4 linked regions of the Homo sapiens genome follow. The protein of the gene in region 2 purifies or fractionates together with the protein of the main gene of each other region. This does not show direct contact. Each region holds a gene or a part of one and is shown on either strand. Other genes may lie near its edges. The genes, in order: BPIFA2, RHOBTB1, COPS7B and CST2.

Region 1 (5,554 bases), on a different chromosome or scaffold from region 2:
CTGGGTTCCCTATTGGAAAGGAGAGGCTGCTGGGATCCTGAGGCGATGGTGTGCATTGGTGTGTGGCCCGTGTTGCATCTCTGCTGAGGCCAACGCGATTGTTGGGAGCGGACAGTGTCCTGCCCCTTCTAGAGCAAAGGAAGAGCCGAGGGTCTACACTTGGGGGAGAAGAACAGCACCCAGAGTACCTCATCTGTCTTGGGCCAGGGAAGTGGAGCCTGCTGGAGGCTGGCAAGAGTAGCGGCCAAAGTGCCTGGAAGCCAGGATGTCACCTCTCTGAGCCTGGGCCCTCTTTGTGCCTCAATGTCTTCATTTGTAGTAAATTCAGGGGTCCTACAGCTGTGGATTCAAAGCCTGGCTCTGCCTCTTGCTCACTGTGTGACCCGGAGGAGTCACTTTGCCTCCATCAGCCTCAGAGTCCTCCTCTGTCAAATGGGTGTGATAATGGCTCTCCTGGTGCATGGGTGTGGTAAGGAATCAATGGAGCCCGTGGGCCGCACAAAGGCAGTCCCCCATGACGTGTTGCCGTGAGCAGCGTGATGCTGTCTCTGCCACAGCCTGGTGCAGCATGGGCCGAGCTGCATTCTGGGGTGTGGATGGAGGGGCCTTGGGTGGAGGGAGAAGCTGGTCTCCATAGGATAGGTGAGCATCCCAGGGTTCTCGACCTCACTAGGGAGGCTGGGCCTCCAGGCAGCCTGGCAAGTGGGTGCACAGGCTCTCAGGTGATGGGAGGGGTGGGTGAGGGTGCTACAGACTGAGAACTCTCAGCACCACCTGGAAAAGACATCTCTGCTCCAGTGGGACCCCTAGAGGGCAGCAGGGCTAACAGGGCAGGTGGAGATGGGGCCACAGGCCTCTGACCCTGCATCACTCTGTCTCATACTCCTGACTCCAGTCAGGCTAGGTGTCCCCTGATTCTCCAAGAATCCTCAGGGCCCCTGGAGAGGAATGGAGGAAAGTGCTGGGTGGGGCTGTCCCCAGAATGTGACTTTCCAGTTCCCATTGCCTGTCTGGCACAGAGTAGGTGTTCACTACATACCTGTTGAATGCATGAATGGATAGATCAGGGGTCTGCTATTGCCACAGATTGGCTGTGTGACTTGGGCTAGTTTGTTGCCCTCTCTGTCTCAGTGGCCCCCTTTATAGAACCAGGAGATGTGGCTGGATATTCCCACTGAGCCTTCTAGCTCTGGATCCAGGTCTCTCCCACCCTAGTTGCAGCCCCCAACCTCCCTCCCCAGTTCCCACCAACAAATCCCAAATGGAGGGAATGCAACAAGCCACACAGAAGGGTGCAGAAATGGGCCTTTATTGCCAGGGGCAGGACAACATGTGTAGAGGCTGCTGTTCTGACTGTGAGGAGAAGGGGTATCTGGGAAGGTCCTTCTGGTGGGACTCAGGCTTTCACGCTGGTTAGGTGGTGGCAGCAGCTTCCTGGAGGGAGATGCTATAAGGGGGTGGGGCAAGCCACTGGGAACCAATCTGGAATGAGACCAAGGGGGTTAGGACATTTGCTGCTAGGCTGCCCTTACACCCAGCTGTCAGTCATCCACTGGGCACTTGATGGGACCCAAGTTGACCTGGCTCCAGTGTCCCAGCTCTTTCCCACAATACCCCATGCGGTTTAAGTCCTGGGAAGAAGAAACTGGCACCTGTGGTTTGGGGTCTTTCATTAGCACCTGGCACTGACTCATCTTCATTCCCCTCACCCTCCTTCAGAACAATGGTAGATGTGAAAAGATTGATTGAGGCCACTACTGGAGCCAGGTTCAGGGCCCAATATGTGATCAGAATCATGGATATCCATTTGAGACCAAGGTTGGGGCTCATTCTGTGACCAAGACTAAGGCTCAGTCAATAACTGGCATCAAAGCTCAGTCTGTGACTAGGATCCAGGCTCAGTCTGGGGCCAGAATCAGAGTTCAGTGATTAAGGCTCAGTGTTCAGAGTGTGACCAGAATCAGGGCCTAGCCTGGGATGGGGGCCAGGGCTCAATCTATGACTGAGATGAAGGCACAGTCTTCTAACACAAAAATAAGGGAAGCCACGCTTGACTTTTACTTCACCATAGGCCCCTGTGCATTGGGGCACAGAGACTGGCTCCTCACCAGCATGCACCACAGTGGTCCTCCTCATTCGTCCTCTTCAGATGAGGGTTTGCAGCTGGGTTTTGTGCTGAGGATTATCTGAAGAAACAAAATCAATAGCAGGCCTTAGTCTCTGCCACTGGAATTGAATAGAGACCAGACTCCAAAAGATGCCGCTCTCCAGCCGGTAACCTGACAGTTGTGGGACCCCAGGGATGTTGCTCCACCTCTCTGAGCTTCAGTTTGTTCATCTGTAAAGTGGGTACAATGACAGTACCTTCCCCACAGGGTTGTTGCAAGGATCCAGTGAGATAGTGTGTACAGAGCACAAAGTGACTGCCTAAGGGACTGGACTTGTGGCTATTTCCTTTCTTCTTCTTCTTTTTTTTTTTCTTTTTTTGAGATTGCGGTCTCACTCTGTCACCCAGGCCGGAGTGCAGTGGCATGATGTCGGCTACCTGCGATGTCCGCCTCCTAGGCTCAAGCAATCCTCCCGCCTCAGCCTCCCGAGTAGCTGGGACTCCAGGTGGATGCCACCACGCCTGGCTAATTTTGTATTTTTTAGTAGAGATGGGGTTTCACCGTGTCACCCAGGCTGGTCTCAAACTCCTGAACTCAAGTGGTCTGCCCACCTCAGCCTCGCAAAGTGCTAGGATTACAAGTGTGAGCCACTGCGCCTGGCTGACTTGTGGCTATTTTCATAGAAGGGTCACCTCCAGGGTCTTGACAGCTTTACTTACTCCATTTCTCCCCAGCAACCCCAGCCATGCCTGTAGACCCAAAAGCCAAAGGGAGCCCCCGGGTGCCTGTGGAGGGGAAGCCATGGCTCCCAATTTGCTTAGGACAGTGGGTCCTTCTGCTTCTCCAGGGTCCCCTGACCAGAACTGCTTATGGGGTGGGCACAGAGCTCCATGCCTGCCTCAGAAGGTCCCCACTTCCCCATTGACTTACCGACGACCTGCTGAATGACATTCACATCCAGGGAGTGGATGAAGATGCGGATCAGTGGACATATCTGACAGCGGAGAAAGGAGGAAGAGGAGGGTCAGGAGTAGGAGGAAGAACAGATCATTCTTCTCAGCTGAGAACAAATTGCTTGCCACCCACAGATGAGCTCATTTCTAGGGATCTTAGAATCTTTGAACCTTAGGATTTTATTTTGTTTTATTGTATTTTTTTTTTTTTTTCTGAGACAGAATCTCACTGTCTTGCCCAGGCTGGAGTACAGTGGTACGATTTCTGCTCACTGCAACCTCCGCCTCCCAGATTCAAGTGATTCTCCTGCCTCAGCCTCTCAAGAAACTGGGTTCACAGGCACATGCCACCATGCCTGGCTAATTTTTGTATTTTCAGTAGAGACAGGGTTTCACCATGTTAGCCAGGCTGGTCTTGAACTCCTGACCTCAAGTGATCTGCCCACCTTGACCTTCAAAAGAGCTGGGATTACAGGCATAAGCCACCGCGCCTGGCCTGAACCTTAGGATTTTAGAACAATGGGATCCCAGCAGTCTTAAATCTGGAAACCCTAGGGTGTTAGAATCCTAACACCTTAGAACACTAGAATTCTAGGACCTCAAAAATCTACATTCTAGATTGTTAACATTCCCATGTTGAACTTTGGAACCCTGGAATTTTAAAGGGTCAAATGGTGCCCTGAGGCATTTGCCCTGAGGTTGTAGAGCGGAGTATCTCTTGCTCCTGTGTGTACACAGTTCCCCGCAGATTGCAATTCAGCAGGTCTGGGGTGTGGCCTGAGATTCCGCATTCCTATCAAGCACCCAGCTGAGGCTGAAGCTGGTGGAGGATCGCTTTTGGAATATAACTAAACTCCGGTTCAGTGGGTCACAGAGCCATCCGGAGGATTTTTCTTTTATAAACCCACATTCCTGGGTCTGCTTCCAGAATGACTGATTTAGAATCTCTGCAACTTTGGGCCTAGTAATCCTGCACATGGTACCTATGGTTTTGGATGATGCACAGATGGAAAAAAAATTAAAACTATTTTATAAGTCCATTGATTGTATGATATGTGATATTAATTTTCTATTTATGATAGGGATATAAAGTTTTATTTTTAAAAATAAATGCTTCTAAAGAAACATATTTAAGTAAAATTGTGTTGAAGATGTTAGCTACAAAAGCATATTGGTAGTGCGTGGATATGGTGAGAGGCTCAAGTTTGGGACCTGGCAATTTCAGCTAATGTCAGGCCTCTGCTCTACCCTGCTACCCACCAGGCTGATTAGTAGAGGAGGAAGCTCCAGCTGACCTCCTAAGGAGAAGCTTTCACCTCCGAAGGAAAAGTGCTCAGAGGATACAGCCAGGCCTGCAAATTCCCCCACCTGCCCCCACCAGGCCTGGATCTGGGCTCCAAGGAGTGGGAGACTCACCTCCTTCTGCAGCAGGGAGGATACAGTGCTTTTCAGCGTGTTGATCACGCTATTCACGAACTTGTTGATGATTTGGCTGTGTCTGGAAAACACAGGGAACTATTAAAGTCTGGTCAAGTGGGCAAGAGATGGGAGAACTGCCAAAAAGTTGGGGGCGGTGCGGGAAATACTGTGGAGTCAGATAAACCCCAGGGACATGGAGACACTTTAACAGACAGAGCCTCCCATCCACATGGATCATCACTTAGACTCCCACATCTGACCAGCGGCTCACCCCAGTGCCTCATGAGATTCTCAGCGCAGAGACCTTATTCGTTCACTCATTCAACCCGTATTTACAGAGCACCAGCTATGCACCAGGAACCTAGCTGGGCCCTGAGGATACCGAATAAGTAAAGTACAAACATCCCCTAACCTGGTACCTAAACATTAAGGGTCCAAACATACCCTGATGTGGTACCTAAACAAATCTTGCCAAAGTTGGCTCCTCCCACCTTCAACTCTTAGTATAATTGCCACCTCCTCAGGGCACCCCTCCCTGACTGCTTACCTAAGAGAGAGCTTTGCTATCACAGTGCCCAGTTAAGGGTAATGCTTTCTGCAGGACTCATTTCCCTGGAGCGTTCTTTACCGATGGACTGAATTTGGGTTGGATTGGATCCAAAGTGCAAAGAAAAGCGCTGAGAGGATTTGGAGCTGTAGAGTGGTGTCATTTCACAGATGTGGACACAGATCCACGGCAGCTTAGCTTTCCCTTGGGTAAGCTCCGCAAGAACAGGGACCTTGTCTGTCATCACCAATCAGTTCTCCAGAGCCCAGAATGGTGCCTGCCTGGCACACAGCAGATGCTCAATACACTTTTTTTTTTTTTTTTGAGACAATGTCTTGCTCTGTCACCCAGACTGGAGTGCAGTGGCACGATCTCGGCTCACTGCAACCTCTGCCTCCTGGGTTCAAGCAATGCTTGTGCCTCAGCGTCCCGAGTAGCTGGGATTACAGGAAACCGCCACCACCCCCGGCTAATTTTTGTATTTTTAGTAGAGACAGGATTTTGCCATGTTGGCCAAGCTGGTCTTG
Region 2 (7,000 bases):
ATGTTTTTGTTAAATGATTTGGGGAAAACATGCCAAGATTCCCATTCACTCTCAGAAGGTTTGCTTGGATGTATCATTTTTACTGAAAGCAAAAGGACTCATGCTCCGCTACTTAATGGATGCATATAAAGAATTAAGTTATTTGTTGTGGAATAAAGAATTTAAGAGGAACACTGGAATATCAGAGCTCGTAATAGATGGTGAGTGCTGGTCTTCAGGGTCTACACAGTACTGTGTAAGATTCAGAATGTACCAGGAGGAAATTTCAAGTAATTTTGTCATCCATCATCATCACAAACTACAACAGCATGGTGGATGGGGAAGATATGGGCTTTGGAGTCAGACAGATTCAAGAGGAAAGTCCAGCTGCACTCTGTCCTGGCTGTCTGACCTTGGCCCTTTTTTGTGCCTGTTTCTCCAACCGTGAAATGAGCCTATTTTGCAGGCTCACCACAAGAGTGAAGCAGGACAGGACACATGCAGCACGTAGCACAGGCCTGGTGCCTGGGGCACCCTGATTAAACTGTAGTTGTTATCACTGTCAGCAACATAGGCTTTATTCAGTGTCTGAAGGTTCTCTGACCTGCAGACAGATCAATGAAGGAAATTTTATAGGGGAAAAAAAAAACAATAAAATCTGCAATTATTTACCTATGTGTGACTAGACAAAAGGGACTGATATGGTTTGGCTGTGTCCCCACCCAAATCTCGAATCGTAGCTCCCGTGATTCTCACATGTCGTGATGTCGTGGGAGGGACCCAGTGGGAGGTAACTGAATCTTGAGAGCAGGTCTTTCTCATGCTATTCTCATGACAGTGAATAAGTATCATGAGATCTGGTGGTTTCATAAAGGGCAGTTCCCCTGCACATGCTCTCTCTCTTGCCTGCCACCATGTAAGATGTGACTTTGCTCCTCCTTTGCCTTCTGCCATGATTGTCAGGCCTCCCCAGCCACACGGAACTGTGAGTCCATTAAACCTCTTTTTCTTTATAAATTACCTAGTCTCAAATATGTCTTTATTACCAGTGTAAGAACAGACTAATACAGGGACTGAAGGGCCAGATTCCTGATAAAGGCAGAGCCCATCCTGTTTGCCTATATTTTCAGTGCTAAGTCCTTAAATGTGGACATTTCATTTTTATAAGAGCTCCAGGAGACAACTCTTGAGTTGAGCGACATCCCTTTAAGAAGAGGCGCTTTCCTTGCCAAAAAAGAGCAGCTGATCAAAGTCATGGTTACTATGTATGGTTTTGTTCCTGACATTTTAAAAGATCCAGAAAAGAGCTTCAAAAGTTCATCCAAAAGTGGATATAAAGTAGGTGGTGGAAAAAAGGCCATAAGAGAGCTGGAGTTATTCACCCCAGAGAAGAGAGGGTTGACAGATTTCAAAGTGCAGAGCGTTACAACACTCATGCTACTCTGTTTCCTTCATCTCCATGGAATAGAAGGGCTCCTATCAATACTTTTTTTTGGATAGATGGATGATTTCCCTTCCTGAAGACATGGGGTCAACCAGATGACCTTTTGAAATCTCTTCTAGTTCCAATCTTTGCACAAATCCAAAAGAGCAAATAGAAATCCAGCTCACCAATGTAGGGTCCCAGTAGGTTGAGGTAGCTTGGCACAGTGGAAAGAGTGAGAGCCAGGAGTCAGGCAGAGTGGCTTTGAATCTGCCTCTGAGACTCACTTGTTGGGCAAATTTATGGTAGTAAAAGAACTCAACCTTTTACTCAATGGTAGCACCAAGATCATCTCTGCCTCCTACAGTTCCTGAAAGGATTAACTAATGTTGGCAAAGCACCTAATGTGTTGACTGGCACACAGTAGGCTTTTGAAAAATTGGAGCTTTTATTCTAATTGGCAAAAGAATGGGTAGAATAGTTCCATTTAAATCATAAGAGAGCAATAACACTGTGGTTATACCACATCAGGAACATTGCAAATTCAAGTTGGCCAACTGCCTACCACTGACAACTCCTCATCCCACAGAATCCTCTCTGCAAACTAGAGCTTGTCCATGCCAAAGAATGTTTGAGGGGCAACTTATTAACTACCTTTTGCTATGAAGCAGAGGAAACCGAAGGCAAGGTCTAAAACATGTTGGTTTAAATCTGGCTTCTCTCACTGTCACCACAAGAATCAAATTAATTATTTTAAAAAGGTTTCGAATACATTTTCAAGAATAGGGAATGTATTTCACATGCCTCAAAGTTTATGTCTTGAGTACATCCCACTGAACTGTAATTCTCACTAAGTACAGTAAAAATGTCAGTCACAAAACAGGTTTGCAAACCAAACAAGTTTTGCAAAAACAAAAAAGGTTTGTAAAAGCTATAATTATGATTCCTCTCCTTCACAAATGATATAAAGGTAAAACTTGAAGTCATTAAGAAATTAAACAGCTCTCTCAGAGCCGGGAAATGTACTGGTTAGGGACCTATAGTGAATTAAAAAACTCCTACTTCTCTCAGTTTTTTCCATAAAAATGTAACTTTTTGGCATTACGTCAATGTGATATTACATATTTAGCATTTACAGAAAGATGCTGGAGTGCAAGAGAGAGGAGCTCTGGTTTTTATTCTTTAACTAGAGGTGGGGTCTGTGTCAGGACGCCTGGAGGCTGTGAGGAATTGGAAAAGGCAGAGGAAATACAAGGTACAAACATGCACACAAAGCAAGGCCCTAAGGAGAACGTGGCCAGAAACACAGGAGTGTTCCTGAAGCCCCTCAATGTTGCTCAGAGAATCAAACTTGGCTTGGGGGAGCACTTCCTGTTTCTATCAAAGGGATAATGGGTTACAGTTGACAGAACCAAATGTTACAGACAAGGGAGCAGAACAATGCACTTTGAACCGATGGAGTCACAGGAAAGAGCAGCTTATTTTTGTTGGGAGGGAACACACACGCAGGTATGGCATGTTGTATTGTAAAATGACTCCAGCTATGTCAGAGAGCTGGACGGGGCCCAGTGTGGATCTATGAAGGCCATCGTGCCATTAAATAAATGCTATGCAGGAATCTCACAAGATAATGAAGCAGCCCTTTTATTACCACCACACCAGCTTTACGCTGAGGGGTCATGTTAAATTTCGTTGTTTGAAATGAATACATTTCATTGTTGTTGTTTTCTCTTTTTTTTTCTGTTATTTTTTCACAGGTATTGACAAATGCATAAATTTCTAGTGGCAACAAACCACTGAGCTGTTGAAATAGTCTCTAGATTCTAAACCCAAATATTTCCATTAACTCATCATCAGGCTCATCATTTTCATGACACTGTTTTAGAAGTGGGGATATAAAAAAGTCCTTTGAAATCTACTGTATTTATCCTTACACTGCCTAAAGTCATCAAATCAAGCTTCCTCAAAACCATAGGTGTTACAAACCTGACTGCCCAGCAGTTACAAGCAGGTTCATTTATAATTGTTATTTTTACATGTAGAACAATTGGACAAAAGAAAAAAGCAAAATGGCACCTAAGATAACAATCAACAACATTATAGAAAGAAAAAAAATCCAGGAAATTCAAGGAAAAGAAAACTATCTATGATGTAGGATACTAAGTTCAAAAGTCCTTGTTACCAAGGGGACATTAAAATCGTGTTTTGCTTCCATAACTCTCTGAGTCCCCTTGAAAGAAAGTGGTCTAAGTCACAGATTCTTTCAGTGTGTGAAATAATTCCTGGGAATAGGGCAAACTCTTTCAGCAGTTTATTCATTATTTTAGGCCACTTAGATAAATGACAATAAAAGTCCGTTCAAAGAGCTACTGGCTTGTAGAAATAGAAGAATCTTCAGAAATGCTTATCTCAATACCAAGGAGTAATTCACGTGCTTGGAGTACCTAACTAATAAAATCCTGTAAGGTGATATGATGTTTGATGTTAAGAAGAGACAACAAGGCCATGATATCTACGTTCTACACTGAAAATGAAATGTGTTCATTTATAATTAAGTGGTAAAAAAAAAGTCTCCATTAATACAGAATTTAACAGCTATAACCCATTCATTGAGAGAGACGTTAAGTTATGGTGGCAAGGAGAGGTTGCTAAATATTTTAAGGCACTTTGACCATGTTCCTACCCATATTAATGTCCTTCTAGAGGAGTTTTCCCATTACTAGATTTTTTTCTCCTTTTTAAAAAAATAAACGTTAGTGTTTCTGTTCATTTTGGAAATATGTCTTGCGAAGGACTTTGGAGATATTTTTCTTTCTTTTTAAAAATGACCTTCTAATAAAAATAATAGACTTTTCAGATAACACAAAATCCAAAGCAAATAACATTAGACTCTGCCAATATGGTCATGAAAAGACCAAACAGTCTTTCTGAAGTAGGGTGACCAAGTGCCAAAATAACTTAAAACATTCTAACAGAAGGCAAGTGAAGTGTTACTCAGAGAACCAGCAATCAAAGCAGCCCGCAGTTGGAGGGTGTTACAGAATCCTAATCTAGCAAACCTTCCAGCTTGACCACTGGTTGTTTTCAACACAGTACTTCCTCATTGGCAGGGCACGCTTCTTTTCTTGACATCAGGAAACAATACCATTTTTTTTTCTTTTCCTTTTCTTAGACACAGTGCAGAACCCAGCACATTTCAAGGCCATATGATGTGGTTTTTGTTGATTTGTAAACCCGCTGCTGGTTTTGAAAAGGAAATTGCATTCAAGCTCAACCACGCTGTACTAGTCTTGGTTTACCTGCCATATGCAAAGCGTCTGTCTTTGTGATGATCACCAAAAGTATCCCAAAGCCTGAGAGAAACACTCACTTCATCAACAACATCCCGAGAACGCTCCAAGACCTGCAGGAGAGAGAGAGAGCATCTGTGCTCGGTGTCAGTCAGAAGTTCCCCAGGAGAAGCGTGTTCAAGTCAGCACCCTCAGTGCCATCAATTCACTTGCATTAAGTTTCCTTATTCTATCTGACGGGATTTAAGCTAAGTCTTAATTCCCTTCCTGGAATCATCTGTCTCAACCCTCATTCAGGATACCAGAGCCACAGTCTCCGGTTTGCATTTTGCTTTTGTTTTCTCTCGTGGCACTAAAAAGGTTAGTTTTGTTTTGAATGTGTAATTTATCCACGCTCCTCCTTTAGAAAAAATCAGACTGGCAACCAGCAATGATGTGCCCTAGGGATGCTGAAGACACTCTGTGCATCTTACCTCCTGGCACACGCGGTACTGGTCAATCGCCCACACTGTTGGCACGTGGGTGGCCAGCAGCTGATACTGCGTGAGTGTGGTGTTGCACGCCCTGGCACAGATCAAGCGCGTCTTCCCCACGGCATTGTCACCCACGACCACACATTTGATAGTTTCAACGTTGGGTCTTTCGTAGTCCATGTCAGCGTCCATTTATGAAACTCTGTAAGAAGAGAGTGAACACCACAGTAAGGACACCAAGGCTTTCCAGAGCAATCAAAGACGTAAGAGGTTCAGGGAGTTTTGCCTTCGTCCAGCCACTTCCTTGGAGGTGCACAAGCACAGGAAAGAATGTTTGGAAGTTCGTACTAAGCCTAATTGACACTCAAGTTTTCTTTTTATATCTCACACAAGTACAAAAACATGGGACTGTTATTTTGACCCCAAACAGTTTATTCCCGTTAACTGTTATTTTCTCCTTGGTTTTCTCTAAACACAACCTGCCTACTGGAGCTCCATTCAGCCACTGTCGGGACAGCTGGCACACATTTATAGCCTACTGGATACTCACGTTGGCCTGCTAGCAAGTCCGGTCACCTGTAGGGCTGAACTTCAACATTGGGCAATAGGTAGCCTTGGCAATGCTAGCATCTACTTCATCACAAGATCGCTCATTAGCCAATATCTGTTGTTGAAAAGCAGTTTTCTATAGGTTCAAAACTGTTATGGGGACTTAGAGAATAATCAAAAGTGCAGGCTGAAAGACTACCTGATGTCAAAGAAGAGTAAACTGCTAAGTCTAAATTTAATCAAATTAACTTATATTTATTTGTATTAATCAAATTCATAATTCATAAATATATATGTGTGTGTGTATATATATGTGTATATATATACACACACACATATATATATGTATATGGAATCTCACGCTGTCACCCAGGCTACAGCACAAGCACAGTGGTGCAATCTCCACTCACTGCAACTTCTGCCTCCTGGGTTCAAGCGATTCGCCTGGCTCAGCCTCCTGAGTAGCTGGCATTACAGGTGCCCACCACCATGCCCGGCTAATTTTTATATTTTTAGTAGAGATGGGGTTTTACCATGTTGGCCAGCTGGTCTCAAACTCCTTATCTCAAGTGATCTCCCCACCTTGGCCTCCCAAAGTGCTGGAATTATAGGCATGAGCCACCATGCCTAGCCTTAAAAAAGATATTCTTGAGGGCCCACAATAAAGCAAGATTCAAAAAAATTATCTTCTGTGTTTTCATCAAGAAATCTGGAACATATGGCAAAGAATAATTTTACCAGGAGAGTTACTTTGGAATCTTCCTGAGACCATCCAAGAAGGTTTAAACAGGGCTGCTGATGAGAGGCCAAGAGGAAGAAAAAAAGCACCTGCCAGCTTGGTCTCCCCAGGGACAGGACCCTCCACAAACAGGGGTGCAGGCTGCTTACCAGTAGCAGCTGGACAGGAGGCCAGCCATGTATGATTTTAAGATTTTAATTAATTGTAATTGCCTTTTTGAGGGAGTCTATTGTTAAACTAATAAGAACAGATGCTACACTTGATCTTAGCCAAAAGGCTGACAAGCAATGGAAGTCCATTGTTAAACTGAGAAAAGTGGGTGGGCGGTCATTTTTAAGGAGTCAGTAATGATTTTAATGGCTATGGTAAAGAAACTGTTCAGAGTAAAGCCTAATACATAATTGGGACTCAAGTGTTTGTTTAATTCATCTGATTGAGAAAAATGATAACTTGGATAATGAGATTAAGGGCATTGACAAGGATATATAGAAAGAATATTAAGAAGAATTCTTTTTCACAGTTAGGACTATTGGAACATGGACTGTCT
Region 3 (8,800 bases), on a different chromosome or scaffold from region 2:
CAAAGTGGCACTGCTCCTCTCTGGATATGCTTCTCTCGGGGATGAGCAGAGATTCTCTCTCCCTCCCGAACCTGTGTACAAAGCTCACCGGGTCTGCTTCATGGCTTCCAACATGCCACGTGCCTGCCTGGGAACACACTCTCCTCACCTCCAGGTATACTCTAACCCTGGCCTTCCTTCAAAACTGAGCTAAAACTTCTCCAATCAGTCCATCTGGCTTTATAAGCCCCAAATAATTTAAATCACTCCACAGTGAATCCTCGTAGAATGTGAGACAGCTCTTACAAATATCAAATTCCATTAAAACAGAGAAAACACAAATGTCCCAATGCTTTTTATATACCAGAGTATAGTTATCAGATATTCTTTGTATGAGTCTGTATTCCAAGTTAAAATGACCCACTCCTTGTCTTCCATGTCCCTCACGGTGTTTTACAAACATTAGCCCAATATGTTACTGATTTTGAACGTAAGTTCTTTTATCCGAAGAATCTTATAAACATGTTAACTTCAACAGGGATAGAAAAAATAATAAAAACAAAGAAAGAATCTTACAAACACTAGCCTTCCTGAGTTTGGTCAAACTTTGAGCGTGAGTTTGGAAAGGGCAGGACTAGCCTCACACAGCTAGGACACATAGGCTCCACCTGCTAACCCTGGGCATTTTATAGCCCACTTTTAAATAGCTCCCAGTTGCATTTAAGGAAAGAACTATTTTACAACCAAGGCACCAGGAGGCCTGAAATGACTCCTGTTATCACACAGCTGTGATCACAAATGTAGCTCCACTCTCCGGCTCACTAAGCCCCAGCTCCCAGGTAGCTACAGGCCCACCCCAAACCCTCAGCTGACACCAGGGAATCACATTTTTGCAAGGAGAGGCACAAAAGACATGCTAGATATCCCCCTCCTCCTTTTAGCCTCACCATTCATGCAGGGTCTTGACAATATTATTGATATCCTTCTTTCGGATGTCACGGCCAATGCAGAAATCCACTTCCAGCAGCTGGTTTCGCTGGTCCAGCTTGCCCTGGATGATGTCAGTGTAGACAGCCTCAATGATAAGGTCTTCTAGTTCCCGGAGATTCCGCATCTCCAGGTCTTTCAGCAACACGGAGTAGGGGATACACTGTAGATAAGGCCATGTGATCATTATAAAAACCATCTGGCAAGCATTAGCGAAAATGCAGGTATTACTCCCATAGCCAACAGCTGCCTCTAGGCTCGGGAAACGCAGGCTAGTGGTAATTATTAATAGCTAGGGCAACAAGAGGTGGATAAATGAACCATGAGACCTAGAAGACCCAACATCTAAGAAAGCAACCTCCTGGTTCTCTGCCTCCTTGGCTTCACCCAGCCTTCAGATTTCACATGCTGCAGCATACTTGTAGAGATCCTAAAAACTTGTACCAGTGGAGAGAAAGGGAACTACTGAGTATATGCCACTCTGCCACCTTCTGGAAGCTTTCAGACTTTGCTAGATCACCATAAATCTCCAACAGATCCCAGTCACTGGAAAGAGCTGGCTACTTGCCCAGCAGAGTGCAAAAACAAACAAAAAAAACTTGCAGGCCAGCATATCTACCTATAGGTGGCCAATGGGTACTGCCAGCTCAGATGTCACCCTGAAGTTTGTATCTGTTTTCTCAGACACAACCAATATGAATTCCCCAACAATAGTTCTTTATTGGGCTGTACCAACATTCTTTACTACACTTGAGAAGTCCACAATCAGTACAAGAAAAAAGGTCAGGTCCTCATTTCACAACAAAATAGGCCTCCCACCTGAAATGCTAGGCTGAGAATCAGAAATGTGCCATTAGATCAGATAAAATGATTTCAGCAACTGAAATTGCAATCCAAGAACAAAAAAACCAAGTGCAGTGGCTCACACCTGTAATCCCAACACTTTGGGAGGCTGAGATGGGAGGATCGCTTGAAGTCAGGGGGTTGAGACCAGCCTAGGCAACATGGTGAGACCCTTGTCTCAATTTAAAAAATTTTTTAAGTTAAAAAGGCCGGGCACGGTGGCTCATGCCTGTAATCCCAGCACTTTGGGAGGCCGAGGCAGGTGGATCACCTGAGGTCAGGAGTTCAAGACCAGCCTGGCCAACGTGATGAAACCCTGACTGTACTAAAAAATATAAAAATTATGGGCATGGTGGCAGGTGCCTGTAATTCCAGCTACTCGGGAGGCTGAGGCAGGAGAATCACTTGAACCCAGGAGGTGGAGGTTGCAGTAAGCCCAGGTTGCGCCACTGCACTCCAGCGCAGGCAACAGAGCAACACTCTGTCTCAAAAAAAAAAAAAAAAAATTAGCCGGGCGGGGTGGTCCACGCCTGTAATCCCAGCTACTTGGGGCTGAGTAGGGGAATCGCTCGAATCTGGGAGGCAGAGGTTGCAGTGAGCTGAGATCACACCACTGCATTCCAGCCTGGGCGACAGAGTGAGACTCCGTCTCAACAACAACAACAACAAAAAATCTAGCAAGTCCGACATAGCAAGTTTTTCCTCCAGCATGGGCATAGTTCACTGTGTACTGAGCAACAGATTAAGCTGTTAACTTGCCTTGAGATGCCTTGCTATTTGAAAAATGTATATCTTTAACAGCAGTCTCCCCTTAATATGGCAAAATGATCATGCCACATGCGGCACCACAGCATGCCAGGACTAAGACCTGCTGAGTCAATCACTTCTGGGCATACTTTTCCTGTATGGAATGGGGAGTACTTTTCTACACCATTTTATCTTTTCCTCTGTCAAGCAAATTTTATGCATTTATGATGTGACTCTCCTATGTGCAGCTGGGACTTCCTTCATTGATGTCAATGAGACAGCTGACTTGGGGTAAGGAGGAAGACAAGAGAAGGCTCAGTACCGTACCTTCATTCTTGATGCCAAGCTCACGATGGTAAGATGCTTCAGCTTGTTCTGCTGAGCTGTGCTCAGTTCTGGCAGGCTCTCCTTGTTGGCTGCTCAGTCCCACCCACCACAAAAATCAAGACACAAAATAAAATTAGGATTTCTTTTATGGAATAAGCTCACCAACTCCCCAAACCAAATCTACTACTGAATCACTATCATGACTTTGCACTTATTCATTTGACAAATATTCCTGTCTTCTTTGGAAGACTATGTACTTCCAAAGAAGAAAAGACTCAGTTTCTACAAACACAGAGTTTAGTCTCCTAAAAAGCAAACAAGCAAAATGATGTGGCAATTATCTTAATGGAGTACTATTTGTGCCCCTTGTGACATTCAATTAAATTAAACATATCTTCATCGAGCATCTGTTGTGTGCAATGCTCTGTACTGAGAAGAATCAAGGATGAACAAGATGGGCTTTGCCAGGGCTGCTGCATGGCACAACTCCAGGGCCACCAACCACCTGGAGGTGTGCAACTTCATGGCCCTGGACTTGTCCTCGGTCTTACAATCAGATGTTTCCATAGCTACAAATCCAAGGCAGAACTACCAGAAGAAAGGTACAAGCTACTAGAAGAGAGGAGGAGAGGGATGGGGAGGAGACAGGGGTAAGAGAAAGAGATGAAAGGGGAGGGGAGAGGGAAAGAGAACAGTATCATTTGGAAAGTACAGAAGATAAAAAGAAAGAATTCATGGAAGAGATGGAGTTTGAGTTGAGCCTTGAGAAAGAGGCAAAATTTCAATAATAACCATAAATGATAATAACAGCAAGGGCAGCAGCTGCAGCAGCTAACATAAATAGCAAGCTTTACATCTTGTGGATTGCATAGATCCACACGTACATACACACATCCAGTTCATCTTCACAACAACCCGCAAGACTCCAAGTGTCCTCAATTCCTTAACGATAATTCTGGATTCCAAAAAACTATATCCAAACTGATTTTTTCTTAAGCATGGTGCTGAAATTCACCTGGTGGGAATTTCTAACCTGTACGGAGACAGGCTTTTTATCCCACTTGTTTCCACATTCCTCTGGGAGTGTTACATAAAAAGGCATGCGCATCATATTACCTTTTTAAAGTCCCAAAAATTCTAAATTCTGAAACATCTAACTTCGAGGAGTGTAGGTAAGGAATAATGGGCTTGTATTGTTACTCCCACTTTACAGACGAGGAAATTGAGCTGCATAAGGTTACTTCATTTGTCAACGAACACACAACTAGTAGAAGTGGAGCCAGACTGGCTACAGGCAGTCTGCTAACAGAGTCTGTGCAATGCTGCCTCTTTAGTAAGCAAGGACAGAAAAACAGAACACATTCCCTGGAACAAAGGGAAGGTCAGAAAAAAATGTGGTGTACCAGGAACTGGCAAACTGTCCAGTCTGACAGCAGCACAAAGTAGAAGTGACCAGGGAGAAAGAAGAAGTCAGGGATATCGCAGCGAAGGCCCTGAGTATCAGGCTACAGTCATACCATTAAAAAAGGGTAGGAAAGCCAGAAAAAAATGCTTTGGGTAGAAGGTAAGTTAGTGTTTGGACATACAAATACCTCAACCTAATACTTCAGATTATAATTTAAAATGACCCAAATGCCCTGCAACAGAAAATGAGCTAAGTAGATTATGAAATATTAAAAATATTAAAAAGACTTAAAATATGGATAAATGTTTGTAAGTGGGAAGAAACAAGCAAGACATAAAACTGTATACATAGTTGTACCTATGTAATACAAAACACAAACATAAGGGGCACAAAAAAGTCCAGCATCCAAATGTCTGAGCAACATATGAGTGACATTTATTTATTTATTTGTTTGTTTGACAGAGTCTCGCTCTGTTGCCCAGGCTGGAGTACAGCGGTGCAATCTCAGCTTACTACAGTCTCTATCTCCCAGGTTCAAGCAATTCTGCTGCCTCAGCCTCCGGAGTGGCTGGGATTACAGGCGCCCACCACCACGCCGAGCTAATTTTTGTATTTTTAGTAGAGACAGGGTTTCACCATGTTGGCCAGGCTGGTGTAAAACTCCTCACCTCAAGTGATCTGCCTGCCTCGGCCTCCCAAAGTGCTGGGATTACAGGCATGAGCCACCGCGCCCAGCCTATGAGTGACTTTTAAAAAGTCTATTTTCCAAATTTTCTTCAATATGCTGGTATTATTTTGATAATATTTAAAATGTTGAAACATTCTACAGGTGGGTATTCTGCACTTCACAGCACTCCAAGAGCCCTACAAACACCAGTCCTCAAGAATCTCATCTGGAAAACAAACAAGGGCTACATTTGTGGATGAGCACACACAGGCCCCATTTGACCCACTAGAATATAAAAGGTGAGAAGGAACATTCCCTTTGTGAGGTCACCCACCGGGCACAGCAAAATGGGAGGCAGCCAGGTCAAGAAGTCTCCCCACTACCCCATGCTTTATATCTCAAACCTTGATGGTCTTCCAAACTGAGCAACATAATTAACACAAGTCTTTTGAAGGATCTTCACCAACTCACCTATGTAATCTGGGTATGTCCCATAGGCAAACAGGTTCAACAACTGCAAATAAGCAGCATTAGCTCCTTCCGCAAGCTGAAGAGGAAAAAAAAAGTTCACCACAGACCAAACTGTCTACCAATCACTGTAGTGTTCAAACAGAGGACGGGTGAGCATGTGTCAAAGATGCCATGGCTGTTTATTCTGTACTATTTGATTACTTGGCCCCTGGGGTCTCTACCAACTCTGGTTCTTCGGGAAAAAATAAACAAGATTATTAAAGCCCCAAATTTAATTTCTCTCTCTCAGGAATGTTTTACTTTCTATACAGCATGCCCAACGAACTGCTTTTCTCTCACACACACATACAAAGCATTAAGCATTGGAAGGAGTTCAAATCTTCTCAAGATTCTGTTTGCATTAAAACAAAGACTGGAGCAGCCCTATCTACATACCAGCTTGGTAGGTATGGCATGAGCCACCACCAACCCAAAGTGAACAAAGCTCAGGGTTGGTTCCAAGTTTCAGGACTACACGTGGACTATGAACCCTGGGAGAGACCAGCACATCATAAGGTATGACAGAAAGCCAGGCTGGGACAGAAAACCAGGGTATCAGTCTGCCCCAAATCAAAATGTTCATTAAAATTACTTACTCTTCACTGATGCTGATGGCAAAAAGCCATGTGTAGAAGAAAAACGAAAGAGCCACTGTTCTGCCTGGAACTTCTCTGCTGTCAATTACGTTAACTGGTTGTTGTTGTTGTTGTTGTTGTTTAAATCACAAACGTGGGCCGGGCGCGGTGGCTCACGCCTGTAATCCCAGCACTTTGGGAGGCCGAGGCGGGTGGATCATGAGGTCAGGAGATCGAGACCATCCTGGCTAACAAGGTGAAACCCCGTCTCTACTAAAAATACAAAAAATTAGCCGGGCGCGGTGGCGGGCGCCTGTAGTCCCAGCTACTTGGGAGGCTGAGGCAGGAGAATGGCGTGAACCCGGGAAGCGGAGCTTGCAGTGAGCCGAGATTGCGCCACTGCAGTCCGCAGTCCGGCCTGGGCGACAGAGCGAGACTCCGTCTCAAAAAAAAAAAAAAAAAATCACAAACGTGCTCCTGTTACCCTTCCAACTTACCAAGCCCAGTAAACTCTAAACAGGAATAGCAAGTGGTAGTCTACAGACAGCAATAGCGATACTACTCAATTTTAGCCATTAAAAAAAATAAAGCTTCCAAGAAATGCATCTATAATTTCAGATCACTGAAAGGCAACCAGCTTATTCTCAGCTCACATATGGAAAAACGCAATGTATGGGGAGATAAAGGTGGTCTGCTAAGCACCCTATGGAGAACTCCAGCACCATAATACCTCAGGCTACTTTCTCAGGTTACCACAAACCTCCTGAAGTCCCTGAATCAGAAGGGGAAGAAACCTGGTAAAGACCATCCAATCTAGCCCCCCTTTTCAGAAACATAATTAACAAAACTAGCCGGAAAAGAGCATTTTCTCCAGAGCAGATACTCCAACACTTCTCCCACTGGCCTAAATCAATAAGGTCTTTCTGACTTTACTTTCCATCCATCTCCTCTTAGCCAATCTTCCACAGTTACAAAACAACTACTTGGCATATTCATGCAGGCTGTTCATGAACCTGAAGGAACATATTACCCCTTGGTCATCTCTTGTGTTGAAAAATGAACTCAGTTTTCTGAAATTTTCTTCATAAAACTCATTTTCCACTTCTGGTAAATTAAATTTTTATTGAAAGCCTACTGTGTGTCAGGCTACGTATTCAGCTCTAAAGAAACAATGGTGAGCACTACAGACCTCCTCACAGAGTTTATAGTTCGGCAAGCAAGGCTGACATTAAATAAAAATTTACAGTGAAAAAGTAAAAGTGGCTCTTCTCATCTCTGAACATCACAGGTAGAGGAGACATAATTGGGCACCTGAAATGGCTGGACTGTAGGGAACTGCTCCAGTTTCCCCATCAAGAGGAATAGGCAGACACACAGCACCGAATCCAATAAACTGAAGGCCGGCAACTCCTTTGGTTACAACTAACTGATTCACTGAAACTCCTGTTAAAACTGACTGTGGGTGTGGAGCCAACAGCAAAGGTGTTGTGGTGGTCATGAAGGTGATAAACTGCCCAACAAAAGCAAACCACCTCCTATATGCAAATCGCCACCACCAAGAACTCCGGGGCCACTCTCAACAGCATCCAGCACATGCTCCACAAGAAGTACCATCACCCAGATCTATGCATGGCAGCTTCCACAGAGCCAGCACCAGTCTGCATAGCCAGAAGCCTGTGAGGATGAAGAGGAAGGGGACCTGCCCCACCAATCCGCCAAAAGCTCCTGAGCACCAGCCTCCACCCCACAAAACAATAAAGATGCTTACAGACTTTTCTCAATAAGTGAATAAATATAAATAAATAAAAATGTTCAAATTGGAAAGTAGAGGTTGAGAAGTATAGATTGCTTTACATCTCTTTGTTCCTTCTGTTCAATGGATCTTCTCATTTTTGAGGCACAATGACCAAAACTGGATATCCAAGGTTTTAATAACAAGCAAGCAAACAAGTAAAATGAACTATGTCCTAGCTTTTCATGTCATATCTAACACATCTAACACATTTAGCACAACACTGCCCTTTTCCTCAAGAACAATACACTCCTATTCATGTCCATCTTATGTTCAATAGCAGTATGTTTCTGCTGTGTGTCCCTGACCAATCTTCCTTATCGATATTGCACTGGAGGTTTCTGGTCCTTAAGAATGCATGAATCTACTCCTATTAAACAGCCCATGCTTACAGCACTACTTTTCTAATTTATCAGGATCAATTTGACTTTTTTACTATCTTTTAGGTTATTATTAGCAACAATCTAATTTTACCCAAGGTAAGATAAAAATACTGGATAAAAGGAGCCAAGGATATTCTCTCAATCTCTCCCTCTGCCCCACCAATTCCCATCTGTCTCACAATAGGGTACCTCACAGGTTCACAATACTTCAGCACTGAAATTCTTTGGAAACCTGGAGAATTACAGAGTCTTAGAATAAAGAGAAATTGTTTGCAAACCGTTCTTACCTCCTGCACGTTGGCCAGCTCCAGAAGTTCTCCAAAGACATACACTCCGGGAGCCTCTAAGACCTGGCTTATGAGAGCAGTGAGGGCTGAGCCACTGGTACCTTTGGCTAGTAAAATAAACTGCTCCAGGAGATTACTTGAGGGTTTCTGTTCCCCTGCCATTCTCTGGCCTTGAAATCTGTCCAAAAGAAAATTGTGTCAGTCATTCTTCCTTCTCCTTTGCAAAGTCTGTGCCTATTCAGTGCTGAATCAAACACCAGAATACTTTACTTTTATAGTGTTGATAAAGAAAAAACAG
Region 4 (9,042 bases), on a different chromosome or scaffold from region 2:
TGCAGCCCAGGGAGTCAGATGGATCCCTGGCTGCAGCAGCCAGCAGCCTGAGTTCCAGAGGCCGCCCCTACTCCCCTCCATTCATATGTGGTTCTTCAGTCAGTGAATCTGCACTGACAAATCCTTTTTTTGAAAAATAAATGTTAACTTCCACTCCAGAACCATGAATACCGTTCAGATGCTGGTCCCTGAGAGGAAGGATTCTCTTTCTCCCCATGGAGTGCAAAACAATCAGACCTGACACTGGGCTCTGCCCTCTCTCGCCTTTCCTAGCTGGGGCTACCAGCAGGCTTCCCCATGAGTATCACAGTTTCCTAATGATGTGGAAGAGCCAAATGTGATACCAACATGGGCCCATAGTTTAGAAGCATCCACATGTCCTAGCAGAGCCAAATGTGTTACCAATATTGGCCCATAGTTTAGGACCTTCCACATGTCCTAGCAGAGCCAAATGTGTTACCAACATGGGCCCATAGTTTAGAAGCTTCCACATGTCCTAGCAGAGCCAAATGTGTTACCAACATGGGCCCATAGTTTAGAAGCATCCACATGTTCTAGCAGAGACAAATGTGTTACCAACATTGGCTCATAGTTTAGAAGCATCCACGTGTCCACCATGTTTGAGGAGAGGGAGAAAAGAAGGAGGGATAGAGTGTGAAAGAGACAAGCTTGACCCCAGAGAATTCCAGGCACTCCGTAAAAGGGGCTTCTGGGCTTCCCATTTGAGAAGCCACCAAATCCTGTGGCTGTTCAGTCTCAGCTCCTACCATAGATCAAAGTGTTAGTTGCTCAAAACCCAGATGTGCAGAATCTCAACTCTTGGCCAGGTTGTCCTCACCACCTGCACCTGTAGGTGATGCTTTCTGTGTTTGGTCATTTGTTTATTGTAGTATTGCTTAGTGTTCACTTATTATTCATCATTTATTGCAGAGAACTTCTACCACTCACCTAACTTCTCATCCTGCTAATTCAGATAATAGGATCAGTAGTCACCCATGCAGCCTAGGGGAACAGAGCTTTCTCTTTCATCACCTAGCAGAAGGAAAACTTGCCCCCTCCTGGGCAGCTAGACTCCTCCAGGTTACATGGGTGCTGGAGGCCCCAGGCTTGTTCCTCAGTCCATGGTTGCTATCTGGCCCCCTCCTAGTGTGTCCTTAAAACTGTGGACTATAGAAATCAGGGAACAAAATGTTCTGTCATTTTTTTTGAGATGGGGGTTTCACTGTGTTTCACAGGCTGGAATTGAACTCCTGGATTCAAGGAATCTTCCTGACTCACTCTCCTAATTAGCTAGGATTACAGGTGCACCACCTCACCTGGCTATTCCATCATTTTCAAACATGTTGCTACATCACTGGTAAAGTCTGCTCATCTCTGCTGGTCTGAACTCCCAGACAATACGCTTTAAAAAGTAGCCTCTTTCTCCACACGCACAACAGACACAACATTTGCCTAAGGTCATCAAACATCTGGAGCAGCTGGCCAGCTACCCCCACCTGCCACTTCCTATCACTCCATACTGGACATCGCACTTGTACCTCCTCAGAAAAGCAACATACATTGGTATCTTTCCTACTGAGATTAGAGAGGTTGCTGCATCAGGACAGCTGACCCTCCCTGCAGTGCATGCCAGCATCCTGACACAAGATGACCACTGGTGGTGTCATCACATACACGGCACAGATCAGCACTTTGGCCTCCCTCCCTCACACTCCACCCACCAGCAAATTCTCACTATTTGGGTTACCTGTTTGGGAAAAGAAAGAGAGATCAGACTGTTACTGTGTCTATGTAGAAATGGAAGACATAAGAGACTCCATTTTGTAAAAGACCTGTACTTTAAATAATTGCTTTGCTGAGATGTTCTTAATTTTGTAGCTTTGCCCCAGGCACTTTGACCCAACCAGGAGCTCACAAAAACATGTGTTGTATAAAATCAAGGTTTAAGGGATCTAGGGCTGTGCAGGATGTGCCTTGTTAACAAAATGTTTACAAGCAGTATACTTGATAAAGGCCGTCGTCATTCTCTAGTCTCAATAAACCAGGGGCACAATGCACTGCGGAAGGCTGCAGGGACCTCTGCCCTTGAAAGCAGGGTATTGTCCACGGTTTCTCCCCATGTGATAGTCTGAAATATGGCCTGGTGGGATGAGAAAGACCTGACTGTCCCCCAGCCCGACACCTGTAAAGGGTCTGTGCTGAGGTGGATTAGTAAAAGAGGAAAGCCTCTTGCAGTTGAGATAGAGGAAGGCCACTATCTCCTGCCTGCCCCTGGGAACTGTATGTCTCAGTATGAAACCCGATTGTACATTTGTTCAATTCTGAGATGAGAGAAAAACTGCCCTATGGTGGGAGGCGAGACATGTTTGCAGCAATACTGCCTTGTAATTCTTTACTCCACTGAGATGTTTGGGTGGAGAGAAACATAAATCTGGCTTACGTGCATGTCCAGTCATAGTACCTTCCCTTGAACTTAATTATGACGTAGATTCTATTGCTCACATGTTTGTTGCTGACCTTCTCCTTATTATCACCCTGCCCTCCTGCTATGTTCCTTTTTGGTGAAATAATGAAGATAATAATCAATAAAAACTGAGGGAACTCAGACCGGTGCCGGTGCAGGTCCTTGGTATGCTGAGCGCCGGTCCCCTGGGCCCACTGTTGTTTCTCTATACTTTGTCTCTGTGTCTTATTTCTTTTCTCAGCCTCTCATCCCACCTGACTAGAAATACCCACAGGTGTGGAGGGGCAGGCCACCCCTTCAACCTGCATCTCCTTTCCAGTGATAAAAAAAAATGAGAGGATTTCTTGACCTTCAGCTTATCCTCTGCACAGCAGCTCTTCCTGAGTCTGGACTCCCAGCTATCCCAGGAAGGTGGGAGCCACAGAGGAGAACTAAGTCCTACCCTTTGGAGATGACCACTCTGCTCACAAACACCTGGTAAGGGACTTCCCTCTCTCTCCCTTCTCTGGGAATTTATCCCCATTCCCTGTCTAACTAGGAGCCATCCTGCGCAGCCCTGTTTGAAGACCTTCCCTCCATCACCCAGCGGTAAACACCATCCCTGGGACACCTGCTGTATCTGCTGGGATGCATGGTTTTTCTAGGTGTGCTGGATTGACAGTGGTGTGCAATGGTCACTGGGCCTTGGATAACAAGGTCCCCTGTCCTAATACTGAACATGAACACCAATGAGTAATATTGTTCCTGCTGCCGGGTCCTGCTGATGCAGCCCCAGCCACGGCTGAGACCCAGGATCCCAGCAGCTCTGGGTTGACTCTGTCTGACCCTCACCTCCACTACTCCCAGGAGAGTCCTCTGGATGCCATGCAAAGGCCCAGGGTTTCCTGGTGTTTCTCACCAAGCCTTCCACCTCACCACAAGGGCATTTGCCACAGGGTCACCTTCAGGCATGGAGGGTTGGGTTGAGAGAACAAAGGGAGCAGCTGTCTGTTCAGGGCCTCCTTCCATCCTCCCCAATCCTGGAGCCACATTCCAGCACAGGCCCACAGCATCCCAAGCTGGAGACTTTGTCACCCCACAGAGCACTGTGGTGATTAGGTCCTCTCAGTCTGTGGAGAAGGAGAACTCCCAATCCTGGCAATGAAGCAACTTGGGGGCCACTGGAAAGCCACGCTGAGCAAAGGACGAAGACACATCTGGGATTGCTCTGCAGGATTCCATTCCTGGGAATCTCAAGGGCAGGTGACAAAGGAGTCTACAGGACTGGACAGGGGCTGCCAGGGTGGGGTGGGCACGAGGATGAGCTGCAGAGGCAGGAGGACACCGTCTGGGGCAAGGCAGATGTCAGAGGTCTGGACAAAGTGGTAATACAGGTGTATGTATTTACAAAATCTTCCAGGTGGGCACATACTATTAGGCATCTTACTGTATGTAAATTCTACCTCCTTCAAGGCAATTTTTAAAATATCAGGTGGGTCTTCCAAGCAGTGCATAGAGGAAAGAAGCTGGAAGCATGGCTGCCTAGGAGAGAAGCAAGTGAGGCCTGTGGGCTCCCACATTCATCCCTTGGCTTCTGCTCCCTCTTCTGACACCCCCACTGCCTGCCAGGTGTCTCCCTGCACCTTGTGGGCCCCACCCACAGTTACCATGAGACACCAGGTCATTCCCTTCCCTGCTCACATCCCCTCCAGGAGCTTCCTCTTCCTGGAGCAGGCATGTCCCAATCCCACCTCAGGGCCTTTGCACTGGCTGTTCCCCAATGCCTGGGGCTTCTCAACCTCTCCAGTCTCATAGAGACCACCCTGACCAGGGTCCAGTGGTCTCTCTCTAGCCCCTGTTCTATTTCACTTCCAACAGAGTGAGTATAACTCCCTGATCCTAATTGTTGACCATAACCTATCATCCCCTACACACACTGTGTAGGAACGGACTGTACAGTTTCATAGCCACCTGCCACATGTGCCACGGGACACTTGAAATGGGGCCAGTCCAAAATGACTCCCAGGCTAAGTGTAAAAAATACACAGCGAATTTCAAAGATTTACAAAACCCCTCCAACAAAAAAAAAATCTCATTAATAATAGTTCCTATTAGCTGAAATAATATTGTGGCTGTATTAGGTTAGATAAATATTTTAAACATTACTTTCACCCATTTTTTCTCATCTTTTAAAATGCATCTACTACACATTTTCATATGCTCGTGGGTTCATGTCACATCTCTGTGGGCAGCAGCTCTGCAATGTCACCTCTATGGCTCATCATCCAGGTTCAGTATTCAAGCCCTAGACCTCCTGGCACGGGGAGTAGCTGGTGATAAGTTTTTTTATTGAATAATGAGTTATGAAAAGAGAACCCAGTGACCTTTTCAAAAAAGGTTAATTCCCTTGAATTTGGCAAAGAAATTCTCCATAATAGGGTGTGGACAGGGTCTTCTGGAACCTTCTGAAATAACCTCCCTGTTCCAGAGATTCAGAGACCGTGACCAAGTGCTCCTGGATGCCTCTGATATCTGAAGACCCCGGAGGCCAAGCCCTGTATTTTTCACTTTTCTGAGCAAACAGGAGGTCACATTGTTTTCATAGCCAAAGGAGAAGTGTCATCTCTGTGGAGACCTGGTGACTCAAGCTTGGGAGCACTGGGGAAGAGAGGCATGGCTCGGGGAGGCTGCAGTGAGGACAGGAGTGGGGAGGAGGGGTAGATAGAGGAGGAGGCCTGGGAGGGGCAGGGAGAACTTAGGCAGGGAGGGATCTTGTGGTTTCTGAGGAGTGAAAAGAGAGATGGAGAAAGAGGGAATGAGCAGAAAGAGGAGGAGGAGTCAGGGGCAGGTCATGGAGGGGGGTGGGGCTGAGCTGCCAAAGCAGGATAAATGCACAGCTGCCTGCTGGTCTGGGATCCCCGCCTCAGGCTCTCAACCTCCTCTCCTGCAGCTCCAGCTCTGTGCTCTGCCTCCGAGGAGACCATGGCCTGGCCCCTGTGCACCCTGCTGCTCCTGCTGGCCACCCAGGCTGTGGCCCTGGCCTGGAGCCCCCAGGAGGAGGACAGGATAATCGAGGGTGGCATCTATGATGCAGACCTCAATGATGAGCGGGTACAGCGTGCCCTTCACTTTGTCATCAGCGAGTATAACAAGGCCACTGAAGATGAGTACTACAGACGCCTGCTGCGGGTGCTACGAGCCAGGGAGCAGGTGGGTGCTGCCTCCACCTGAGGGGTCCTGAGTCCCAGCCTTGTTTGTTGCCCGATCCATAAGAGCATTCGCAGCACATCAACACTGATACATTCATGATCTAATGCTCAGATTCATTCAGCTTTCCCTGACTCTCTGCTTATGGCCTTCATGCCTAAGCATGCTCCCGGGGGATGGAGACTATGCTGACTCTGGATGGGCTTGATGCTGCTCAGGATGAGATCCAGGCCATGAGGCTCACCCTCCTCCCTGAGTCCTCTCCTCAGGGGCCACACAGGAACTTCGCTTCCTGTTCTGCAGAGCCCTACTTCACTCCCCAAGTCACACCCGTGGGTACAGCCCTTTAGGGCTAATGGCCTTCACCCTCAGGCCGGCTGACCACCCCCTACAGCCCAGGGCAGCTGAGTCCCTGCTGGGGTGGAGCACGCCTGACCCTGCCTCTATGAGTTGATGCAGAGTTAGACCTCAGCCAGATGAGGACAGCAGTTACCCAGTAGAGAGGAGGAGGTGTCAGGTCAAGAGAGAGCTTCAGAAGGGCTATTGGGCCCAGCTTTACCTGCATCCCATGGCAGAGCAGCAAATAGTGACACAGGCTTTAGAGCTCCTCCACCTTCTCTTGGAAATTCAAAGGAATCCAGACCAGCCCCATTTCTCCTCCTGCAGCTGTCAACTGGGACCCTCACCCTGCACGGGAGGTGCACTCCCTGGTGCCATGGTCCCCGCTTGCCTCCACCTCCCTTTCAAGCATGACAATAACTTGGAGTGAAGCACAGGGCATTGCAGACCATCAGGCCCGGACGCCTATTTTATACATGGGTAAACTGACACCCATGGGTAAAAAGAGTCAGTGTTCCCTTGCCCCTGAGCCACAGGTGGCAGAATTCAATGAATCCTTTTACCCAGCACAGAGAAAACAATATTTAAGAGGGGGCATGAGGCCCAGCACCCTGCCAGCTGACAGGAAGAGGGGGCTTGTGTGCCTTGTGTTGACATGTGGGCAGCTCACGAAGCCCCCAAGCAAGTCCAGTGACTCAGCCACAGTGAAGTGCCTGTGAGTGCATGAACTGATGGGGGCGCTGTCCGTGCATCCTGTTTTCTCATGTGTGTAGATCGTGGGCGGGGTGAATTACTTCTTCGACATAGAGGTGGGCCGAACCATATGTACCAAGTCCCAGCCCAACTTGGACACCTGTGCCTTCCATGAACAGCCAGAACTGCAGAAGGTACGTTCCTGATGCGGGTCCCAGGCCAGTCATGCACTGCAGAGGGGTGCGTATGTGTCAGTCTCTGCCCTACACATGTTTGGAGGGTGTGTGTGTGCAGGTGGGTATGTGGGGAGTCATGTATGCATGGATGTATACATGTTCATGTACTTGTGGAGGGTTGTGCATGTAGATGTGCATGTGGAAAGGTGCATGTGTGTACACACATGTGCCAGTGTGTGCAGGGAGCTGTATGGGAGCATGTGTGCCTGTGTGTGGGGATTCTGGGGGTTTGTACATAGATCCATGGGGTTGAGGGGTCCAAGTGAGTTTACGTAGTTGCCTATGTGTGTGCAGATGGGGTGGTGAGGGAGGAGGGTGATGTGTTTGATTTGCTAGGAAGCCTTCAGCTTGGGAATGGTTACTGGGAGATCAACTCTGCCTGCTTTGGGGTGTTGCCTGTTGGACAGGAAGAAGCAGCTGTGGGGCTGTGTGCTGGGCAGGGAGAAGGGGCTCTGTCTAATCCCAGCCTCAGGTACCTGCATGCAGCCACAGACACAATGATCAGATTAGTGGGACCTAGAGGCCTGTTAGCTGGGAAGCCCTGGACCTGCCCGGCTCACCCAACACCAGCCTCTCCAGGGACCTGCTGGTTCTTGTGAGGTCTCCACTCAGGGGAGAGCCACACTCCCCTTGTTACCATTGCCCCATGCCCCAGCTCTTTGAGGCGGAGTTGCCCTGCTCTGGGTTCTTCCCTCTGGCCCCTCTTAGTGCTGGCCTGAGTGCTGGAGGTGGAAGGAGCTGGGGGAAGTGAGCCACCTCCCCATGCCCTGCACCCTTGGGGCTCCCAAGGTCTTGCACAGGCTGATCCTCACAGGGCTGTGCTGGGACAGGACACTGCAGGCTGCGGTGGGGGCCCAATGCCACCTGGTGACTTGGAGCCTTGGGAGGGGCAATGGAACAGTCACTATTCATTCTAGTTCAGTGCTCTGGGACTCAGCAGGGGTGGGTGAGGGCCCAGTGTCTCACCTCCATCCTCCTCACTCAGGCTGTGACATCTCATGCCTGGGTGACTTCCCCTTTAACTGTAACTCACACTGATTGGCCCTCTCTCTTCCCTTTCACAGAAACAGTTGTGCTCTTTCCAGATCTACGAAGTTCCCTGGGAGGACAGAATGTCCCTGGTGAATTCCAGGTGTCAAGAAGCCTAGGGATCTGTGCCAGGGAGTCACACTGACCACCTCCTACTCCCACCCCTTGTAGTGCTCCCACCCCTGGACTGGTGGCCCCCACCCTGTGGGAGGTCTCCCCATGCACCTGCAGCAGGAGAAGACAGAGAAGGCTGCAGGAGGCCTTTGTTGCTCAGCAGGGGACTCTGCCCTCCCTCCTTCCTTTTGCTTCTCATAGCCCTGGTACATGGTACACACACCCCCACCTCCTGCAATTAAACAGTAGCATCACCTCCCTCTGAGTTCTTGGCTGTCTGGGGATGTGCACACAGGCAGGGTTTCTGCAGTTCCTTTATGAAGCCTCCTTGTTCTGCTTGTGTGGAGATCAGAGGAGTATCTGGGACCTGACATGGCCACAGCAAGGCTGTCAGGGGAGCTGCTGCCACTTTTGGAGGCCTGAGCTTTAGAACAGGGAGACAGCAGCCAGGGGCTGGAAACCCAGGCCTTCAGGTGCAGCAGCCTCTGGTGAGGGGGTCAGGGAGAGGAGTGGGCCAGACTGCTGCCCGGGAAGCTGGGCTGCTGCTTTGGTCTGAGCTACTGGTCCAACCAGGAGGAGGGGGCTGGCTGTGTCCACAGGCAGGGCTCAGGCCTCGGTGGAGCTTGCTAGGCTGTAGATTCCATCTGTGCTTGCAGAGTTGAGCAGACTCCAAGTGTAGCAGGATGAGCCATAGACAAATGTCCTCAGACACCAGATTAAAGAAGGAAGAGGTTTTTATTTGGCTGGGAGCATCAGCAGACTTGCGTCTTAAGAGCCAAGCTCCCGGAAAAAGAAATTCTTGGCCTTTTTATAGGCTTACAGCTTTAAGGGGTCCACATGAAAGGGTCATGATACATCAAGCAAGCGTGGGAAACTTGACTGGGGCTACATGCATCAGCTAACAGAACAAAAAGTTTTACAGTGCTTTTTTCATACAGTGTCTGGAATTTACAGATACCACAAGTAGTTTGGGTCAGGGGT

Evidence for each region.
Region 1: the proteins of RHOBTB1 (region 2) and BPIFA2 purify together in Homo sapiens (affinity purification with mass spectrometry; 2 studies listed by BioGRID and IntAct, with this or other methods). This does not show direct contact.
Region 3: the proteins of RHOBTB1 (region 2) and COPS7B purify together in Homo sapiens (affinity purification with mass spectrometry; 2 studies listed by BioGRID and IntAct, with this or other methods). This does not show direct contact.
Region 4: the proteins of RHOBTB1 (region 2) and CST2 purify together in Homo sapiens (affinity purification with mass spectrometry; 2 studies listed by BioGRID and IntAct, with this or other methods). This does not show direct contact.

The regions. Positions count from the first base shown.
Region 1 is NC_000020.11:33,177,152-33,182,705, reverse strand, and holds the end of BPIFA2 (BPI fold-containing family A member 2 precursor), read right to left. Parts: intron 4,560-5,554; coding exon 4,478-4,559; intron 3,103-4,477; coding exon 3,039-3,102; intron 2,187-3,038; coding exon 2,146-2,186; 3' UTR 2,109-2,145; intron 1,483-2,108; 3' UTR 1,294-1,482; downstream 1-1,293. UniProt on the Homo sapiens protein: Has strong antibacterial activity against P.aeruginosa.
Region 2 is NC_000010.11:60,906,186-60,913,185, forward strand, and holds part of RHOBTB1 (rho-related BTB domain-containing protein 1), read right to left. Parts: intron 5,368-7,000; 5' UTR 5,358-5,367; coding exon 5,166-5,357; intron 4,806-5,165; coding exon 4,702-4,805; intron 1-4,701.
Region 3 is NC_000002.12:231,788,435-231,797,234, reverse strand, and holds part of COPS7B (COP9 signalosome complex subunit 7b), read right to left. Parts: intron 8,681-8,800; 5' UTR 8,665-8,680; coding exon 8,503-8,664; intron 8,497-8,502; exon of another isoform or gene 6,062-8,496; intron 5,503-6,061; coding exon 5,427-5,502; intron 2,973-5,426; coding exon 2,884-2,972; intron 1,130-2,883; coding exon 927-1,129; intron 1-926. UniProt on the Homo sapiens protein: Component of the COP9 signalosome complex (CSN), a complex involved in various cellular and developmental processes.
Region 4 is NC_000020.11:23,823,044-23,832,085, reverse strand, and holds CST2 (cystatin-SA precursor), read left to right. Parts: upstream 1-5,356; 5' UTR 5,357-5,425; coding exon 5,426-5,653; intron 5,654-6,762; coding exon 6,763-6,876; intron 6,877-7,982; coding exon 7,983-8,066; 3' UTR 8,067-8,317; downstream 8,318-9,042. UniProt on the Homo sapiens protein: Thiol protease inhibitor.